Regions from separate parts of the Homo sapiens genome. Here region 2 is linked to region 1. The links come from fine-mapping of genetic effects on gene expression. Tissue or cell type: monocytes after interferon gamma. Region 1 holds a variant in brackets; the other region holds the start of a gene. All regions are shown on one strand. Distances are between the middles of the regions.

Evidence for each region. PIP is the estimated chance that this variant, and not a neighbour inherited with it, causes the effect.
Region 2: CCDC61 starts here. The variant in region 1 is fine-mapped to the expression of CCDC61 in monocytes after interferon gamma (Fairfax 2014, PIP 0.93).

The regions. Positions count from the first base shown.
Region 1 is chr19:46,011,024-46,021,750 of GRCh38, reverse strand. CCDC61 (coiled-coil domain containing 61) reads right to left here. Exons shown (of 14, transcript NM_001267723.2): 6 at 6,492-6,702; 7 at 6,324-6,406; 8 at 5,528-5,697; 9 at 5,358-5,433; 10 at 4,918-5,057; 11 at 4,682-4,760; 12 at 4,447-4,504; 13 at 3,601-3,673; 14 at 3,135-3,461. The coding sequence ends at 3,364. PGLYRP1 (peptidoglycan recognition protein 1) reads left to right here. Exons shown (of 3, transcript NM_005091.3): 2 at 2,104-2,225; 3 at 2,332-2,598. The coding sequence ends at 2,513. It overlaps MIR769 (microRNA 769), which reads right to left and starts at 2,819; the gene lies at 2,702-2,819. RefSeq lists an enhancer at 1-90 and silencers at 4,829-4,888, 5,619-5,698, 6,166-6,460. The variant T/C (reference allele first, on the strand shown) is at 4,983.
Region 2 is chr19:45,989,256-45,999,982 of GRCh38, reverse strand. CCDC61 (coiled-coil domain containing 61) reads right to left here and starts at 4,516. Exons shown (of 14, transcript NM_001267723.2): 1 at 4,479-4,516. RefSeq lists enhancers at 4,399-4,578, 4,969-5,158.

The DNA.
Region 1 (10,727 bases):
TAGCTTTTACTCCGAGATGGGAGCCATGGGAGGCTTCCCCCCGCAGAGCAGGGACCAGGGCTAGTGTAGGTACAAGAGACTCCCTCTGGCTGCTGTGGGGAGAACAGACTGTAAGGGGTGCCGGCTGAAGCAGGCTGAAGCAGGTCCGGGGCCACGCCTACCAGCTACCTCCTCCTTAGAATGGGCTGCAGTCCAGCCTGACGGTTTCCACAGGGAGGGAACTTTCAATCCTGCAGGCTCTCAGACCCAGGTAAGCATCAGAATCTCCTGCAGAGCTTATTGGAGGAACATGCAGGTCCCCAGAGACCACTTCAATAGACCCCACCCAGGGGACACATGTTCTCAGGACCTCCTAAGGCTGTGTCTCACACACACACACACACAAAACCCACCCAGAGAAGTCTAGAAGTGTCCAAAGGTATTCCCAGCCCTTCCAGTTCAAGATTTTATCAAAGACTCCAACTTCAACATTTTGTTTCCAAGACTCAGGCGCTCTGATCCTAAGTGTTCCCATGAGGTCACGAAGGCCCGAGCCTCGGGTCCACATCACCACATACAGAAGCAGCCGCTGTCTGGCCCTCAGCTTTTAGGATTCCGAATCTGGTTCTAACGTTCTGAATCCCCTTTCCATGTCACGTCACCTTCTCTCTCTGAGCCTCGTTTCTTCACCTGTAAATGGGGCTTCTGACTGTACCCGCTTGGCGATGGTGGCTGAGGTTTCAATGAGATGCATTCATGCAACAAATGACCAGGGAGAACCAACCACCCCCGACCCCAGCACCATCATGCCAGGCTCCGGGAATATGGCAGGGCCATAACCAGCCAGTCCCAGCAGCCAGCATCACCAGCAGGGCCATAACCAGCCAGTCCCAGCAGCCAGCATCACTGGGGCCAGATTCTGGGAGCTGGCTTCCTAAGCAGCAGATTCGGGACTCAAGATTCGGAAGTTCCGACATTCTGTGCGTCATTAATGACACTGTGAGCGCGGGGGCTGAGTTGGCACATACTGCAGCTCCAAGGCACTGATCTTCTAGTTCATTCCCATTTGCCAAGTCAGACACGCTCAATCAGATGTGCTGAATGAATCAGCCTTAAGGATCTGCTGCCAGGCTTGGGAACCTCAAAGAGGCAGGTGCTGGGGCTCCAGGGTCGGTATCTGGTTACGACCCCAACTTTGAGTCTGTGATCCTGTCCCCCAGTGGACCCCGAGGGCAGGAAGCAAGCTGGGGCAAAGGCAGAGTTCTGAGAGGCAGGGGGCTCTGAGTAGCTTGTACAAATTATGTCGCTTTCTGAGTCTCTGCTCTCTCTGCTTAAGATGAGGATGATAAGAGTCCCTGCCTTGGCTGGGCACGGTGACTCATGCTTGTAATCCCAGCACTTTGGGAGGCCAAAGGCGGGCAGATCACCTGAGGTCGGGAGTTCGAGACCAGCCTGGCCAACATGGTGAAACCCCATCTCTACTAATAATACAAAAATTAGCCGGGTGTGGTGGCTCATGCTTGTAATCCCAGGTACTCAGGAGGCTGAGGCACGAGAATCACTTGAACCCAGGAGGCAGAGGTTGCGGTGAGCTGAGATCACGCCACTGCACTCCAGCCTGAGCAACAAGAGTGAAACCCCGTCTTAAAAAAAAAAAAAAAAAAAAGTCTCTGCCTCAGAGGGCTGTCCTGCAAGGATTCAGTAAAACAGGACTTCCACAAATCCTCTAGGGAGGCAGGAGAGAGCAACGCACAAGATCACATGGGTGGGGACCATGGAGGCCTGGTTAAAAACCCCAGCTGTGCCCCAGACAGGCTGTGTGACCCCGGGGCAGGTGATTCTACCGCTCTGATTCTGTCTATATAAAACGGGGGTGATAGTGACTCACAGGGTTGCTGTGAGGATGGAAAAAGGTGTATGCAGAGCTGTGCTTGGCACATGGCAGGGGCCCAATAAATGACCACAGTCATTGTTACTATCGTGGGAAATTAACGGGTGAGAAGGATGCTGGGGAAGTTGTGTGCACCACGGCAGTAACGGAGGCAGGGTGAGTGGAGGAAGGAGGAGGAGTCCTCCTCGGGAAACCCTCCCTCACTCATCAAGCCCCCCCACCTCCCCATGCAGCTTCCTGATTGGAGAAGACGGGCTCGTATACGAGGGCCGTGGCTGGAACTTCACGGGTGCCCACTCAGGTCACTTATGGAACCCCATGTCCATTGGCATCAGCTTCATGGGCAACTACATGGGTGAGTGACTGTCCAGCCAGTTGGGATGGGGGCTGACACGGGGCCCTACGCTATCACTTCCCCTTCGGGGAAGCCCCTGCCTGACTCCTACCTCTGCCTCCTCCAGATCGGGTGCCCACACCCCAGGCCATCCGGGCAGCCCAGGGTCTACTGGCCTGCGGTGTGGCTCAGGGAGCCCTGAGGTCCAACTATGTGCTCAAAGGACACCGGGATGTGCAGCGTACACTCTCTCCAGGCAACCAGCTCTACCACCTCATCCAGAATTGGCCACACTACCGCTCCCCCTGAGGCCCTGCTGATCCGCACCCCATTCCTCCCCTCCCATGGCCAAAAACCCCACTGTCTCCTTCTCCAATAAAGATGTAGCTCAAAATGTGTTCCTCAGCAGGTCCCACCACACACCTCCCCTCCTTCTCTCCCTCCCACAAGACCAAAGCCCTCCCACCCCTTCCCCTCCCAGCACTCTCCTCACTGGTGCTTGGAACCCAGAGGCCCCGGCCCTGAACCAAGACCCCGGAGATCCCAGCTCGAGAGCAACATCACAGCTCAGAACCCAGAGGTCTCAGGTCAGAGCCCAGGAATCAGCACCAAGGCGGCCGGGATGTCACCAACAGTGGGTCCTGGGGGTCCTCCTGGGCAGTGAACCACGCTGCAAGACACCTCCTTCCCACCACACAGCCAAAGGCATCCTGCGCAGAAACTTTGCTTGGACTCCTTTAGGGACGGGCTGCTCACTACTCCTCCCAGGTCTGCCCTTGCACTGTTTAGAGAGTGTACAAGCTTTTCCTAGGCCTGAGTCCCAATCTGCCTCCGAGGCACAGACACACAGGTCCCAATTATACCCCCCAATTTCTCTTCCTCCACATTTCTCCCCACTCCACCCTCACCCTTTAGTCATAAGCTGAGGGGTCCCCAGGGCAAATATGTTTATTTACAAAATGCACACATCCTCCCTCCCAGCATGCACTGCCTGGGGAGAGGGCAGGGTCAGGGCCTCACACACCTGAGACCCCAGGGGCAGCAGGAGGGACGGGGCCAGGGCAGGGACTGGGCAGGGCTGGAGGCCACCCTGGCCCCACCCCCCACACCATACCCAGCAAGTGGGTGGGGGATGGAGGGGTAGTACCCCTTCTCCACGTTATGACCGCATGTCCAGTCGGTTCATGTACTCCTGCAAGGCCTTCAGGCGTGCGTCTATTTCGGCCATGTCAGCCGCCTGGTGCTCCGAGCTGTACTCTGTGAGAGCAGGTGTGGGTATGGGGGCTGTGAGGGGCCTGAAGCCCCAGGGAGTTCCTGGGCCCAATATACCACTGCCCGCACTACCATTCCAACGGGTCCTGGGGCTGGGAGAGGGGATGTGGAGTCCCAGGCTCACCTTTGATGGGGACCCAGCCCCCGGAGTTGGCCAGAGATTTCTGATGGTGGCTGCGTTCCACGGGGGGAGACTTCTGGTGATGGGGAAGGTAGGAAAGGGGGTCACCCACCGTCCCTCTATTTCTGTCCCCCTAAATCCCACTGGAAATCCTGAGCCTAAGGACCTTGGGGAAAAATAAGGCCTGACACCTACTGGCCATTCATTATCTGCAAAATAACCTCCTAATGTCCTCACAGAGCCCTCACCTCACATGTGAGGTGATGCCATTACCAACCCTGGTTAACTGATAAACAAAAACTAAGGTACAGAGAGGCTAAAGAACTGCCTTGAACCATACAGCTGGGAAGAGGAGGAGACAGGTTTCAAGACCTGACAGTCAGAAGCCAAAGCCCTAAAGAGCATCACGTGCCCCTCATTATTCCTTCTCCAATCTAATGCTCTCAAAACGTGCTGTTCCCAGGCCAGGTGCGCTGGCCCAGCCTGTAACTCCAGCGCTGTAGGAGGCTGAGGATGGCTTGAGGCCAGGAGTTCCAGACCAGCCTGGGCAACATAAAGAGACAATACCACCCCCTTATCCTGTCTCAACCCCACCCTGCCCCCCCAAAAAAGCCTAGTCCCAGCTACTCCATAGGCCGAGGTGGGAGGGTCTCTTGAGTCCAGGAGTTGAAAGCTGCCGTGAGCTACAATTGCCCCACTGCACCCCAGCCTGAAAGAGCGAGACGCACTCTTAAAAAAGCCCTATTGCCAAAGGCATTCAGAGTCGCCTCTGCACCTGATCCCCAGGAAGGAATCACAGGAAATGGGGGCAGCTGTGTTCCAGTGGTTTATGTTGCCCCTTCTACTCACCATATTGGACCCACTCCAGGGCGTTGGGCTGGGAGGCTTCCCACGGCGGCGGTGACCCCTGAGAAAAAGGAGTAACCAAGGACCAGTGGTGGGGAGGCTCTGGTACTTCCCACCTCCCCGACCTTTGTGGTTTCAAGGCCCCCAGGCTCCATCACCCAATTTCCCTGCAAAAGACTGTTTCTAGTCTCCCCAGAAACCCTTTGGAGGCGATCCTTTTCCCAAGTTCAAGTTTTACCCTCTGGAGAGCGACTCAGAGAAATCCTCCAAATCGCTGCAGGAGCTGGCAGACGAGCAGCGGCTGCGGAAACTGTCCACTAGAGGGAGACGGAGGGCGTGACCGCTGGCCCTCGCTGGCCCCGCCCAGTGCTTCCCAGGCCCTCCCAGCCCGCCCGCCCTGCCCAGTGCCTCCCAGCCCGCCCAGCCCCGCCCAGTCCCGCCTAGCCCGGCAGCCCCCAGCTCCAGGCCAGTTACCTGAGGAGCTGCGGTTTCGGGAGCGGTTAGGGGCGTCCCCTCGGCCAGTCAAGGCAGCAGGGGGC[T/C]GGGTCTGGCGAGACCAGGAGACGGACGGACCGTCCCCGCTTCCCCCACTGCCTAAGCGGTTCCGCTGCTGCTGCCTGGGAAAAAAGAAAGGAGACGCCGGTCTGTACGCCCAACTCCTGCAGGCAAGGGGGTCACTGCGCCCCTAAAGGTCACAGCCACGCCAGCGAAAGCCTGAGGTGACAGGCCTACGAGCGGAAAGCACGCAGAAACACAGACGAGGAGGTAGGACGGACGGAAGGGAGAGCAGGCGGGGTATCCGGCGAGAAGCGAGCAGGTGGCAGGGGATGGAGACTGATGGTGGCGTGGAGAGATGAGAGCCCGGGAGCGGGCACGGGCCAGGGACAGGGGCAGGTGAGGGAGGAAGGGGCACTGACTTCATCTGGATCTCTCTCTGCTTCCTTTCCTTGGCTTTCACAAAGGCCGTGGGGTCGAAGCGGAGCGCGCGACCACCTAGGACGGCGTGGGAGAGGAGGCGGCTAGGTCCGGAGACGGGCCTTGGCAGCGCCAGTGCGTCCCCTCCCTACCGCAGGGCAGGGGCACAGACCTGTGGGCGAGGGCGAGGGGCGCGCAGGGCGGCCCCGACCCCGGCTCCCGCGGCCGCTCTCCCGGGATGAGGAGCGCGCGGCGCCGCGGCCTCGCGACGCGGAGCGCTCCCGGGACGATGAGGCCCGGTCCTCCCGCGTCGGGGGCGGCTGCACCGGCGGAGTCCGCCTCCTGAGACCACAGAGGCAGCTGTCAGCTTCCCGCCCGCCCCGACAAACTCAATCGCGAGACTCCTCCCCGACCGCACCTTCTCCGAACCCTCAGGCCTACCCCATCAACTCCTAGACGTGCACTCCTGGGCCCATGACCCTCTCGATATCTTCCCCCCCAGACCTCACCCAATTGGACCCCTAAAACACCCCTCTGTCATTCCCCTACATCCTTTCAACACACCGCCTTCAACAGACCCTTCTTTCCGGAGTCTTCCACAACTCCCCGGAAACTCTTTCCAATTTTCCACCACCCACCCCATAAATGCCAGCGGACCTCACCCTGATCCCACCTGCTGCGCCGCACCCTTTCGCACCAGGAGACCCTAGGGCACGATCCCTTTCCCAGTCCCTCCTGAACGCCGCCCCAAGCCTGCGCATCTCCGCACAGCCCGGGTCCACCTCCTAACCACTGCACCCAAATCCTGTCTGGACTCCAGACGGGGTCCGCTAAGCCCCGCCTCCCCTTCAGCCCCGCCCCCTCCACCCTACCTGGCCCCGCCCCGCCCCCTTAGGCTCCGCCTCATCAGCCTCCACACCCTCAGGGCCCGCCCATCCGCCCAGGCGCCTGGCAGGCCTCGCTCTCACCCCCTCTTGTACAATGCCAGCTCGCTGGTCAGCGTCTTCAGCCGGGCGCGCAGGCTCCGCTCCGATGCCTTCGCCTCCTCGAGCTGCCGGGAGGGGAGAGGGGCGCGGAGGTCCAGGCTGAGGCCGAGGTCCGCGCCTCGCTGGCCGCCCCGGGCCCCCGCTGCTCACCTCCTTGGCCAGACGGCGGCAGTCCTGGCCGCGACGGCCGGCCACCCTGTGCCCGAGGCCGCGCTCCTGCCGCAGCTCCAGCTCCAGCCCGCGCACCAGCCCGCGCAGCGCCTCGGCCTCCTGGCGTGCCGCGCGCCCGGCCAGCGCCTCCTCGCGCGATCGGCCCAGCTGCGCCTCCAGCTCCCGCTTCTCGGACGCCAGGCGCGACACCCTGGGGAAGACGCGGAGAGAGCGCTGGAGAGAGAGGCATGGCCCCATTCCCACTACTCCATGGGGGTGGGACGCCTCATCATTTCACCTCCCCGGAAGGGGGTACACGGCTCATCAGTCTCAACTGACCCCATGGGGAGGGGCAGGGTCCTATCATATCCCCTGCGACGTGTGAGGAGGGATGTGGTCACATCACCCCCATGCACCTCACGAAGAGGACATGACCCCACCACGCACAGGACACACACACACACTCCTCCCCCTGGTGCGGGTGAAGGAGTGGGAACACAGCCATGTGAGTTCCAATTCTAAACGATTTCATCAATCTGTACACACCCTGAAAGCCTAGCACTGCCTCCCTCCTCCTCCCACCTCGCCAGGCCAGTCTCCCAGTCACGAAATCCTCTACAATACAAATTTGATCAGGTAACTACCATGCTCAAAACCCTTCCTTGAGAAAATGTATACACAAGGCTATTCATTGCAGCACAATCTGTAATAGCAAAAGAGTGGAAATAACCAAAATGTATGTTAAAAGAGAACTAATTGAATTTCTAATACATCTACTCAATTGAGTCCCACAAAACTATAAAGAGGAAAGTAGAGTATCTCTGTGTCCTGTCACCGAGTGACTGCTGTGACACAGTGCGGTGCAGACAGTATGTTCAGAATGTCCCTTTTCATAAAAGAAATGAGAATTATAAATTATATGTTTATATTTTCAAAATTACAGAATAAACCAAAATCTATGGGGGAAAAAAGGATTATTTATGGGGAAGGGGAAAATGAACAGAAATTGGACTTCTCTGGCTGGACAAAGTGGCTCATGCCTGTAATCTCAGCACTTTGGGAGGCCGAGGCAGGTGGATCACATCTCAAAAAAATAAGAAAACCAGAAGTAAAAATAATTTTTTAAAAAATGTAAGAAATTGGACCTCTCTGAATGTACCCTCTTTTTCAGTTTTGGAACTATAAAAATATTTTATACAAATTAATTAATTAAATTTTAACAAATGCCATCACAAAAATTTTAAAAGAAACTGGCCCAAACAGACCTAACTCTATATCAAAGTTGGTGGCACATTGGAGAATTATAGGAGGTGACTAAAACACATCGTTTGAGCAAGCGGGATATAGCCTAAGGCCAAAAAGAACTGCAAAGAAATCTTTTTTTTTTTTTTTCTGAGACGGAGTCTTGCTCTGTCACCCAGGCTGGAGTGCAGTGGCACGATCTTGGCTCACTGCAACCTCTGCCTCCCGGGTTGAAGCGATTCTCCTGCCTCAGCCCCCAAGTAGCTAGGATTACAGGCGCCCACCACCAACCCTGGCTAATTTTTGTATGTTTAGTAGAGACGGGGTTTCACCATGTTGGCCAAGATGGTCTCAAACTCCTGACCTCATGATCTGCCCGCCTCAGCCTCCCAATGTGCTGGGATTACAGGCGTGAGCCACCGCACCCGGCCCTGGAAATGTTAAACTTCATTCAAAATTCAATTATTAGTAATTACACTGGTATTGTTTAAGATAAAGCAAATAAATATGTTATTATCCCTAGAAACTAAGATTTTCATCACAAGAAAAGACATATAAGTAGGTCAAGTGTGGTGGCTCACACTTGTAATCCCAGCACTTTGGGAGGCCAAGGCGGACAGATACCTTGAGCCCAAGAGTTTGAGACATGCCTGGGCAACAAGGTAAATCCCCATCTCTACAAAAATTAGCTTGCAGCCAGGTACAGTGGCTCATGCCTGTCATCCCAGCACTTTGGGAGGCCAAGGCAGGCAGATCACCTGAGGTCATGAGTTCAAGACCAGCCTGGCCAATATGGTGAAACCCCCTCTCTACTAAAAATTCAAAAAAAAAATTAGCCAGGTCTGGTGGGGGGCACCTGTAATCCCAGCTACTCAGGAGGCTGAGGCAGGAGAATCGCTTGAGCCCAGGAGGCAGAAGGCAGAGATTGCAGTGAGCTGACATTGCACCACTGCACTCCAGCTTGGGGGACAGAACAAGACTTTGTCTCAAAAAAAAAAAATAGCTTGGCATGGTGCCATGTGCCTGTAGTCCCAGCTACTGGGAAGGCTGAGGCAGGAAGGTTGTCTGAACCCAGGAGTCTGAGTTGACAGTGAGCCATGACTGCACTACTGCACTCTAGCCTGGGTGACAGGGCAAGACTCTGTCTCTTAAAAAAAAAAAAAAAATTAAATTAAGTGCAAAAAGAGATACAACTAAACTATATTGTTTAGGGATGCATAGTTCAGCTGGCAAAACCATAAGCAAATCAAGTGAGTGAGATCTGGTGCATTTGGGAGCATGGTTGGGGCAGGAGGGTCTCTCCCGGAAAAAGACATACGGAGGCTATGGGGAAATGACTACTTTTGATTTTTTTCTCCTTTTTTTTTTTTCCACATAGAGTCTCCCTCTGTCACCCAGGCTGGAGTGCAGTGGCGTGATCTCGGCTCACTGCAACCTCTGCCTCCTGGGTTCAAGTGATTCTCCTGTCTCAGCCTCCCGAGTAGCTGGGGCTACAGGCATGCGCCACCCTGCCCAGCTAAATTTTTGTATTTTTAGTAGAGACAGGGTTTCATCATGTTGGCCAGGCTGGTCTTGAACTCCTGACCTCAGGTGTTCCACCCGCCTCGGCCTCCCAAAGTGCTGGGATTATAGGCGTGAGCCACTGAGCCCAGCCTCAATTTTTTAACCTGGGTAGTTGTTACATGTACGCTGGCTTTATGATAATTTGTGAAACCGTACATTTATATTTTATACTCTTTGGAGTATATTATTTTTCACAACAAGAAAGTTAAGTAGTGGAAGCAGTGGGACTCTTGGGCAGGAGGGACGGGTCCCATCCCAGAGATTCAGGTGTAAGTGGTGTGTCTGGAGGAGTCAGGGCCTGCCCTGGAACTCCTCACTGCTCACAAAATTTTTAAAAAAAGAAAAATAGGCCAGGCACGGTGGCTTACACCTGTAATTCCAACACTCTGGGAGTCTGAGACAGGTGGATCACTTGAGACAGGTCGAGAGTTCGAGATCAGCCTGGCCAACACGGTGAAACCCCGTCTCTACTAAAAATGCAAAAATCAGCCGGGTGTGGTGGCACACACCTGTAATCCCAGCTGCTCAGGAGGCTGAGGCAGGAGAATCGCTTGAACCCAGGAGGCAGAGGTTGCAGTGAGCAGAGATCACGCCATTGCACTCCAGCCTGGGTGACAGTGCGAGACTCGGTCTCAAAAAAAGAAAAAGAAATGGTGAATGTACAGGGCAGCCAGGGCACTGAGATTTTTCAAAGCTCCCGGGCAATTTGAGTGCATATCCAGAGTGAACCACTGCATTGGTTGAAAGGCCGAAGAGAACTTTATAAAAGAGGGAGCCAGCTCTCAACAGCTGAAATCATCAGTCTCAACACCACCAAAGGAGGCATCTTGCCAAAACCTACCCCACATGTGATTAAACCTATATAGGGTTAGCCACCACTTCACTGCAAGTACAGGGGACAGAGAAGGACATTAAACACACCATGGCGATATAATCAGCAAAATCTATTTTTCATTTTTCCATCTGAGTATGCTTGCTAGGGAAAAATTCAGCAAAATCTAGACTGCAAAACTCTACAGGACAAATAACCTGATTTCTTCCACAAATAAGTAGCATGAAAAGTGGAGAGGGGGATATAAATTAAAAGAGATTTAAGAAATACATCAGCCAAGCTCAGTGGCTCGTGCCTGTAATCTCAGCACTTTGGGGGGCCAAGGCAGGTGGATGGCTTGAATTCAGAAGTTCAAGATCAGCCTGGGCAACACAGGCAAACCCTGTCTCTATAAAAAAATATGAAAATTAGCTGGGCATGATGGCATGTGCCTGTAGTCCCAGCTACTCAGGAAGCTGAGGTGGGAGAATCGCTTGAGCCCAGGAGGTAAGGACACAGCGAGCCAAGATCGTACCACCACACTCCAGCCTGGGCAACAGAGCAAGACTGAAAAAAAAAAAAAGAAAGAAAGAAAAGAAAAGAAAGACCTCGACAAACTG
Region 2 (10,727 bases), 22 kb after region 1:
TCCCAGTTCCTCTTCTCAGCCTCTGCCTCCTTCCTGACCTCACGCATCCCAGCGGTGCCTTCGAGGCCCCGCCCTCACCAACCCATGACGTCACCACCCCATCCCTGCGAGCACTGTGCGGCTGCCCTCCAGGCCCCATCCTGGCCCACACACCTGACCCACTTCTCGGGCCTCATGACATCATGGCGCTGGCACACTTACACCCAGTGTTTCAGCCCCCAGCTCTCTCCCTCTCATCATTCACTAGGATGACCCCTTTCCTTTCCAGCGTTACATCACCACCCCTGGCTCCACCTTCCAAATGGCTCTCCCCAGATAGCTCACAGATTTCACAGCTCTTACCCCGGGGCCGGAGCTGAAAACTCTCCACGCTGGGCTCACCAAAGACAAATCTACATCACTACCTCCCATACCAGACACGGGCAAATCACTGCCCTTGGCAGCCCACACCTGATGGCTGTTTCCCCACACTCTGCAGCTCCCCACCACCGCCAACACATATTCCAGCCCAGCCATACCCTAGATGGGCTCTCTCCTGCAGCAGCCCTCCGCCCCACATTCACACGCGTGGCCTGGCCTGGATGACCCCCTTCCCGACCCCATTCTGACCTCACCTCCCCACCACGTGGGTGAATTGAGGCTGGATAGAACCCCCCCTTCACTGCCCCAGAATACAGACCAAAGCCTTCCACATTGTCCCCATAGACTGTAGAGACAGAGAAGCCCTCTGGGGAACCAAGCAATGAAATCTCTACGGTGCACACTGCGGCACCCCAGTTCCCCCTGGGGCATCAACTCCCTCTCCCACTGTCTCTCAAAGGCAAACTTTTGCCTTAGATAAGGACCATGCACACTTATTAACCCAATGAATGACTCACCCTAAATTCTGCTCTCTGGTGGGTATTATAACCATCCCCATTATACAGAGGATGAAACTGAGGCTTGTCTAGGATCCCACCATGAAAGACAGAAACATTCGTCTTCCTTCCCCTTACCCAGCTGACCTTCCCTGACCACCTCCTGTTTCCTCCCAGAACTAACCCAAATGCGGCCTCACACCTTAAGCATGGCACATGCTGCAGGCTGGGTACTTCTGGGTTCAGATTCCAGCTGCCTTTCTCCTTGGTGTGTCCTTGGGCAAAGTACTTGCCCTCTCTGGGCCTTCCCCCATCAGTAAAGCGGGATAATAAGAGCTCCTACCTTATAGGGTTGTTGTTGAACTAAATTATTTAGTGTATATAAGGTGCTTCAAACAGTGGCTGGCACTCCCTGTTACCATCTGTGTGATCTGTTGATTATTTGACAGACCAGGAGCCCGTGAGGGCAGAGCCATTTTAATCAATCTTGTATCTTCAGGGACTGCTTGTGAATTTAACGGGAGATGCCAGGGAATGGGGTTCTAGACACTGGGGATACAGCCAAGGTTTTCTCCCCTCGGCTCATTCCCTGTCATCCTCCAGGTCTCAGCTCCAATCCCCTCTCCTGCAGGAAGCCCTCCCTGACTCCCAGGCTGGGTCAGGAGCTGTCTCAATCACCACAGTGGCCCCAGCAAACTCTGAACCAGCCTAACAGTGTTTCTCACAGTGATGGCCAAGGAACATAATCCTTACCACAAGTGCTTATGAAAATGCAGCTTCCTAGGTCGGGTCCCAACTATACACAAGCAGAAACTCTGGGGGTGGGCCCAGAAATCTGCATTTCCTCCAAGTTCCTTCAGACACTAAAGGTTCCTTCTGCCCTTGGGCGCCACAATCTGCCCAGTTTATTCCCCCACCTCCGACCCTACCACCCCACACATGACCCTCCTAGTTCAGCAACCCTGCCCCATACCACAGGGAGACCCCAAAGGGTGGTGAGGACAGTATAGGAGAAGCAACACTTTTTAAACACCATGTGCTCTTCTAGGTGCTGGGTTCCATATTCACATGGAGTCAAACACTCTAGTGGGGAGGTCCAAGAAGCCCAGTGGATATAAACCAACAGTAATTGATGTGAGGACCGGGCACAGTGACTCACGCCTGTAATCTCAGCACTTTGGGAGGCTGAGGTGGGCAGATCACTTGAGGTCAGGAGTTCGAAACCAGCCTGGCCAAGATGGTGAAACCCCATCTCTGCTAAAATTACAAAAATTAGCCAGGCGTGGTGGCATATGCCTGTAGTTCCAGCTACTTGGGAGGCTGAAACAGGAGAATCACTTGAACTTGGGAGGCGTAGGTTGTAGTGAGCTGAGATGAGGCCACTGCACTCCAGCCTGGGTGACAGAGAGAGACTCTATCTCAAAAAATAATAATAGGCCCAGCGCAGTGGCTCACGCCTGTAATCTCAGCACTTTGGGAGGCTGAGGTGGGTGGATCACCTGAGGTCAGGAGTTTGAGACCACCCTGGCCAACATGGCAAAACCCCGTCTCTACTAAAAATGTAAAAATTAGCTGGGCATGCTGGCATACACCTGTAATCCCAGCTAGTTGGGAGGCTGAGGCAGGAGAATCACTTGAACCCAGGAGGTGGAGGCTACCGTGAGCCGAGATCGCGCCACTGCACTCCAGCCTGGGTGACCCGCAAGAGTCCATCTCAAAAAAAATAATAATAATAATCTATATCAGGTAGTGGTGTTATGAAGAAAAATAAAGCCAAGTGAAGGGCCATACAGTGACAGGAGTTATTTTAGCTTGAGTAGTACTTTAGCAAATGCCTGGTTGTGAAGCTGACGTCTGAGCGGAGACCTGAAAGAGGTGTGGAAGAAGCCACACAGACACCTGAAAAGACCTGATCCAGAAGGACAGGACAGCGAGTACAAAGGCCCTGAGGTGGCAGTGCGTTCAGGGACAGCGAGTACAAAGGCCCTGAGATGGCAATGTGTTCGCTATGTTCAAATGACAGCGGGGAGGCCAGGGTGGCTGCAGCAGAGTGAGCCAGGGGAATGAGAGAAGTGATGGGAGTTGAGGGGAGGGAGGAGGAGGAACCCAATAGGTTGGGGCCTCGTGGATATGGTGAAGACTTTTGCAGTGTAATGTGGGAGCCAGGAGAGGGTTTGAAAGGAGAAACAACCTGACCTGACTTCTGTTCTACTAGTATCCCCCTAACAGTGAGAGGCAGAGAGCCCACCTGGAAGGCCACTGCAACAAACCAGGTAAGAGCAGGAGACAAACTGAGGCCAGAGTGGTAGCAAAGGAGCTGGTGAGGCATGGTTGGATTCTGGATGTGTTTTGAAGACAGAGCTAATGCGATCTGCTAGACCATATATAAGTAAGACAAAAGGGAGAAGTGAAGAAGACTCCAAGCTAGCCAGGCACGGTGGCTCACGCCTGTAATCCCAACACTTTGGGAGGCTGAGGCGGGTGGATCACCTGAGGTCACGAGTTCAAGACCAACCTGGCCAACATAGTGAAACCCCTTCTCTACTAAAAATACAAACAATTAGCTGGGTGTGGTGGCGGGCGCCTGTAATTCCCTTGAATCTGGGAAGTGGAGGTTTCAGTGAGCCAAGATCGCGCCATTGCACTCCAGCCTGGGCTACAAGAGCGAAACTCTGTCTCAAAAAAAAAAAAAAAAGAACACTCCAAGCTTCTTGATCTTAGTACCTGGCAGGATGAATGTCCCATCAACTGGGTTTGGAGGTTGAAAGGAAGAAATCGCAAGATTGGTTTGGGACAAGTTTATGTCTGAATGTCAGATGAACTTCCAAAGAGAGAAGAGTCGGCCATGATATGAGTCTGGAGTTCAGGGCAGAGATCCAGGCTGGAAATACACACGTGGGAGTTCTCATTAGATAAAGAGGGTGAAGCTAGCCAATGGTATAGACAGAGATGATGTCATTCTACTGATGATGAAGCTGAGGCACAGAAGGGTTAAACAACTGGCCCAAAGCCACAGTAATGATCAGTGGCAGAGCCAGGATTCAAATTCGGGATTCAACCCGACGCCAGAGCCCACATTCTTAACCATCAGTAGAGTAAGTTTAAGAGTTAATTCACCTAAAACACTTGGCAGGTGCACAGCACATAGCAAACGCCACAGGCATAATAGGGCTTCACATCTCTTTAAAGTACATGCTCATCCCTGGAGGTCTCCTTCCCTCCCTTCCTCAATATTGCTTCTTCCCACGACTTTCACCCAAATCAAAGCTTGTAAAGCATAGTGCGCTGTAATAACCCTCTGCCTTAAAACCTCCTACTAAATCGCCACGCTGCATTCCAAGGACGTCTCTATATTTTACCATCTGCTGTCTCCTGCTTTACAACTTTCCCCATTGAAGACCCTCCTGCGATATACAGATCACCCCCAACTCACATGCTGCGCTCAGCCTCACAACCCCTCAATCAAGCGCCTACCCTTGTTAAAGGGCACCCTCCCTCCCGATTCCTACAAGGCCAGGTCAGCTGCCCACCGCAGCCCACTCTCCCCCGAGAGAAGCCCCTTCCCCTCCACCTAAGACCTCCACCACGGCCCGCGCAACCGCCACTCCCGCGGCCTCTCACCTTCTCCACTAGCAACCCTCCTCGCGAGCGGTTCAACTGACGAAGCTCCAGCCCCGCCCCAGGATCCGGCGTTCTCGCTTCTGATTGGTCACAGCTTACCAGCAGCCAAGTTTCCATTAGCCAAAAGAGACGCCCATCACTCTGTCCCTCCCCCAGAGGAGAACCCGCCCTCCAAAACTTCCAATTGGCTAACTAAGAAGAGGCTGTCCCAAATGGGTTGGGGGAGGCACCTAACGTCGGGCTCTTCTCTAATCACTACTGGCTAATAATGCTGCCAGTCATACAAAAAGGTTGTTCCCCAGAGTGGAAGGGAAAGAATCCCGGAAGTAGCCCCTTGACTCCACCTATTACCCCCTGCGGGAGGGTAGGCCGCGCCCACGTGGTGGGGAGGGCCTGGAAGGGAGAGCCGGGTGTGCATGCGCATGGGGAGATAGTGGCCGCGGCTCCGGAAACTGGGGAGTGGTCTCAGCATAAAGACAGGTTGAGATTTGTCATCGCTTGGTGCATTCCAAACCTGCACTAAGCATTTTGCAGGACTTGGCTTATTTAAACTTTATAACAGCCCTGCAAAGTTATTATGATTTCCATTTTACCACTAAGAAAACAGTCTCAGAGAGGTATAGCCACTAGCCCGGGTTCACACGGCTTTTGAACGACCCATATTTTAAACCGATCAGTCATGAACTGGAAGGATCCAGCTAAAGGAATTGAGCGCGGGGATGGGGGAGGAGGGACCTCTTTAAGAAAGGAAAATAAAGTTTAAAGAAAAAAAAAAACTGACATGAAAGTTTACTTAGAATATGAAATAATAACAAATTACATATTTAAAAGAGCCAAATACCACAAACATTGCAAAATCCCAAAGGATAACGTAATGTTTTTATTAATTTTCTGCCTGACACACCTCTGTGATGTTTCCTACTTTTTCAGCTGCATGTTTCACAATATCCTTGTCTACAAAGAGAAAAGTAAGTTATCTTTCCTCTAGCGTGGTTGATGGAACTTTTTAAAAATTCATTATAATTTAGAACAAGTTTCAGCTTCACAAATCAGTATTGGTGATGTTATTGAAGTCTTTTGGAAATCTAGAAAAACTTCTGGCCAGGCGCGGTGGCTCACACCTGTAATCCCAGCACTTTGGGAATCACGAGGTCAGGAGTTCGAGACCAGCCTGAACCACCTGGTGAAACCCTGTCTCTACTAAAAATATAAAAAATTAGCTGGGCGCAGTAGCGGACGCCTGTAATCCCAGCTACTCAGGAGGCTGAGGCAGGAGAATCACTTGAACTCGGGAGGCGGAGGTTGCAGTGAGCCAAGATCGTGCCACTGCACGCCAGCCTGGGCAACAGAGTGAGATGCCACCTCCAAAAAAAAAAAAAGAAAAACTTTCATAAAGTTTCATTCACATGTTAACTATGTTTTGGAAAATGTTTCCACAGACTAACTTCTGGCTCAATACTTTCAATTTTTTGTTTGTTGGTTTCTTTGTTTGCTGAGACAGGGTCTCGCTTCATCGCTGGGCTGGAGTGCAGTGGCATGTTCATGGCTCACTGCAGCCTTGAACTCCTGAGCTGAAGTGATCCTCCTGCCTTACCCTCCCAGGTAGCTGGTACTACAGGCACACGCCATCACATCTGGCTAATTTTTTTTTAATTTATTTTTAGTACACATGGGGTTTCACTATGTTGCCCAGGCTGGTCTCGAACTCCTGAGTTCAAGCAGTCCTCCCACCTCAGCCTCCCAAAATGCTGGGATTACAGGTGTGAGCCACCGCGCAGGCTTCCTTTCAATTCCTGACATTTCTGTTACACAGATGCTTCTGGAATGAGCCGCTAAAAGATACATTCATGCCATTTAGTAGGCTGTGGCCTCGCATCTAGTGAGTTAGTAACTTACACAACAGAAGCATTCCGGGAAGCCATTTCTACGCCATGACAACTAATTAGGTGGTTTAAGTATCCGAGAAGTATCTATGAACCACATAAAAATATCCCTGTAAACCCAATCTAAATGTATTCTCACTTCACCTTCCCCTCAGCTAAATCCCATAAATGCCTGCACTCCAGCTTGAGTGACAGAGCAAGACTCTGTCTCTAAGAAAATAATTAATAAATAAATAACAATTAAAAAAAAAGGAAACATGGATTAGAATCTGAAGGCTTTCCCTTGCCAGCTGTGAGACCTCCCACAAGTCATGCCTCTTCTGGGAACTTCACTTTCTTCATCTGTAAGTGGAGTTCAATTCATTGCTTCACTTATTTCTTCACTCACTTGTCAGGCCATTTATTGAGCACCTGCTATGTTCCAGGCACTTTTCTGGGTGCTGGAGGTAGAAACATCTGGTAACAAACAGGAAAAGCTCATACCCTAGTGAAAGGAAGGCAAATAATAACATATAGTAAAGAAATAGGCCAGGCGCGGTGGCTCACGCCTGTAATCCCAGCACTTTGGGAGGCCAAGGCAGGCGGATCACCTGAGGTCAGGAGTTCAAGACCAGCCTGGCCAACATGGCAAAATTCTGTCTCTACTAAAACTACAAAACTTAGTTGGGCATGGCGGTGCATGCCCGTAATCCCAGCTGCTTGGGAGGCTGAGGCAGGAGAATCGCTTGAACCCGGAAGGCAGAGGTTGCAGTGAGCTGAGATCAGGCCACTACACTCCAGACTGGGCCACAGAGCGAGACTCCATCTCAAAAAAAAGAAAAAAAAAAAAAAGAAAGAAAGAAATGTCCAGGTCCGGGGTGATAAGTGCTACAGAGAAAATAAAGCAGAGTGAAGTGGATGGAACTGGGGGTTAGAGGGGTGGGAAGATGTCTCAGAAAAGCTGATTTAGAGCAGAGACCTGAAGCAAGTGACTGAGCCAGGAATTTATTTATTCATTTATTTATTTTGGAGAGAGAGCCTCACTCTGTCGCCCAGGCTGGAGTGCAGTGGCGCCTGACTCACTGCACCCTCCACCTCCCAAAGTCAAGCAATTCTCCTGCCTCAGCCTCCTGAGTAGCTGGGATTACAGGTGCCTGCCACCAGGCCTGGCTAATTTTTTTGTATTTTTAGTAGAGATGGGGTTTCACCGTGTTGGCCAGGCTGGTCTTGAACTCCTGACCTCAAGTGATCCACCTATCTCAGCCTCCCAAAGTGCTGGAATTACAGGTGTGAGCCACCACACCCAGCCTATTTATTTTTTTTATTTTTATTTTTATTTATTTATTTATTTATTTTTGAGATGGAGTCTCGCTCTGTGGCCCAGACTGGAGGTGCAATGGCGTGATCTCAGCTTACTGCAACCTCCACCTCCTGGGTTCAAGCAATTCTCCTGCCTCAGCCTCCCAAGTAGCTGGGATTACAGGCACATGCCACCATGCCTGGCTAATTTTTGTATTTTCAGTAGAGATGGGGTTTCACCATGTTGGCCAGGCTGCTCTCGAACTCCTGAGCTCATGTGATCCACCCGCCTCGGGCTCCCAAAGTGATGGGATTACAGGCGTGAGCCACCGCTCCTGGCCAAGCCAGCCTTGAGGGTACCAAGGTGGACCATTGCAAGAAGATGAGACAGTGAGTACAAAGGCCCTGTAGTGGGAACATGCCTGGTGTTTCTAAGAAACAGCAAAGACATCAATATTGAGTGTGTGGAGTGTGACAGAAGATGATGTCTGGGAGGATGCCTGAGACCAGGTTATATAAGGCCTTGTCGGCCCTTGTGAGGCCTTTTGTTTTACTCTGAGTGAGGTGGGAGCCATCGAAGGTATTAGGCAGAGAGGACATAATTTTACTCATGTCTTTTTTTGTTTTTTTTTTGAATCAGGGTCTCACTTTGTCACCCAGGCTGGAGTGCAGTGGCTCCATCTCGGCTTACTGAAACCTCAGCCTCCCTGTTTCAAGCAATCCTCCTGCCTCAACCCCGCGAGTAGCAGGATTACAGGCATGCACCACCACACCTGGCTAACTTTTGTATTGTTAGTAGAGACGAGGTTTCGCCATGTTACCCAGGCTGGTCTGGAACGCCTGAGTTCAAGCAATCCACCCGCCTCAGCCTCCCAAAGTACTAGGATTACAGGGGTGAGCCCCACCGCCTGGCCTACTCATTCATGTCTTCAATGATCATTATGGTGGCTGCATTAAGAATAGGCTGTTAGCTACTCGGGAGGTTGAGGCAGGTGGATTGTTTGAGGACAGGAGTTCGACACTGCACTCCAGCCTGTGAGAACCGATCTCTAAAAATAAAAATTTAAATTAAAAAACTTAGGCTGTTAAAATAATGTGGACATGGAAAACAGCCAGTTTCTCAGAAAGTTAAACAGAATTAACACATGACCCAGCAATTACACTCCTAGGTGTATACCTGGGAATTAAAAACTGGTATTCAAATACTTGTACATGGATGTTCATAACAGCATTATTCACAATAGCTAAAAGGTGGAAACAACCCAAATGTCCATAAATCTATGAGCAGATAAGGCCAGGTGCAGTGGCATGCCTGTAATCTCAGCACTTTGGGAGGCCGGGGCAGGCGGATCACCTGAGGTCAGACGTTCGAGACCAGCGTGGCCAACATGGCAAAACCATATTAGTCTCTACTAAAAATACAAAATTAGCCAGGCATGGAGGCGCATGCCTGTAATCCCAGCTACTCAGGAGGCTGAGGCAGGAGAATTGCTTGAACCCGGGAGGCGGAGGTTGCGGCAAGCCAATATCGCGCTACTGCACTCGAGCCTGGGCAACAGAGCAAGACTCCATCTCAAAAACAAAAGAAAAAGAGAAAAGAAATGAAGTGCTGATAGATGCTACAACATGGATAATAAACCTTGAAAACATGATGCTAAGTGAAAGAAGACAAACACAAAAGGTCACATAGTGTATGATTCCATTTATATGAAGTGTCCAGAAGAGGCAAGTCCACAGAGACAGAAAATAGTGTTGTGGTGCCAGAGGCTGGGGGAAGGAGCGAATGGGTAATCACTGTTTAATGGGTGTGAGGTCTCCTTTGGGGGGTGATGAAATGTTTTGGAACTAGATGGAGGTGATGATTGCACAACATTATGAACGTACTAAATGCCACTGAATTGCTCACTTTAAAATGGTTAATTTTCTGTTAATGTGAATTTCACCTCAATAAAAAAAGAATTTAAGCAACAGATTAAAAAATCATTAGAATGAGAGGTGATGGTGGCTTCCACGAGGGTGGTGATGGCGGAGGTGGTGAGAAGTGGTTAGAATCTATTCTGAAGGTAGAGCTGACAGAATCTGCTGATGGATTGAGTGTCGGGAGGAAGAGAAAGAGAGGAGTCAAAAATGATTCTAAGGGTCCTGGAGTGCAGTGGCGCGACCTCGGCTCACTGCAACCTCCGCCTCCCGGGTTCAAGCGATTCTCCTGCCTCTGCCTCCCGAGTAGCTGGGATTACAGGTACCCGCCACCACGCCTGGCTAATTTTTTGCATTTTTAGTAGAAATAGGGTTTCACCATGTTGGCCAGGCTGGTCTTGAACTCCTGACCATAGGTGTTCCACCCGCCTCAGCCTCCCAAAGTGCTGGAATTATAGGCGTGAGCCACCGCGCCCGGCCAACTCTAAGGTTTTTGATCTGAAAAGATGCCAAGATGAGGTTTCCACGTATTGAGATTAGGTGAATTGCAGGTATAGGGAGACAGGAGGAGAATGTGAATCAGAAATTTGGTTTTGGAAGTGTTGAGGTACCCAGTAGACTTCCCAGTGGAAATATTGAGAGGACAGGTGAATATGAGTCTGAGTTCAGGGATAAGATCCAACCTAGACTGATTGATGTGGGAGTCCATCACCAAAAGAGTGAGTGAAGAGAGAAAGGAGAAGAGAATCCAGAACTGAGCCCTACAGCCCTCCAATGTTTAAAGACTCCAAGGACGGGCAAGACTGCAGAGGAGCCAATGGGCCAGAAGGGAAGTCTTGAGAGTGGAGTGTCCTGGAACCTGAGGGAGAAAATAAACCAAGGAGGAAGGCATGACTGTCAACAAGGAGGGAGCTCAAGTAATATGAGGACAGGCCACTGGACAACGGGACTGAGCCACATAGGGGTCATTGGTAACATCACCAAGAGCTGATTTGGAGCTGGGCACAGTGGCTTGCACCTGCCATTCCAGCTATTTGGGAGGCTGAGGAGGGAGGATCACTTGAGCCTAGGAGTTCGAGACCAGCCTGGGAAACATAGGGAGACTCTGTCTCTACAAAACATTTTAAAAATAGCCAGACATGGTAGCACATGCCTGTAGTCTCGGCTACTC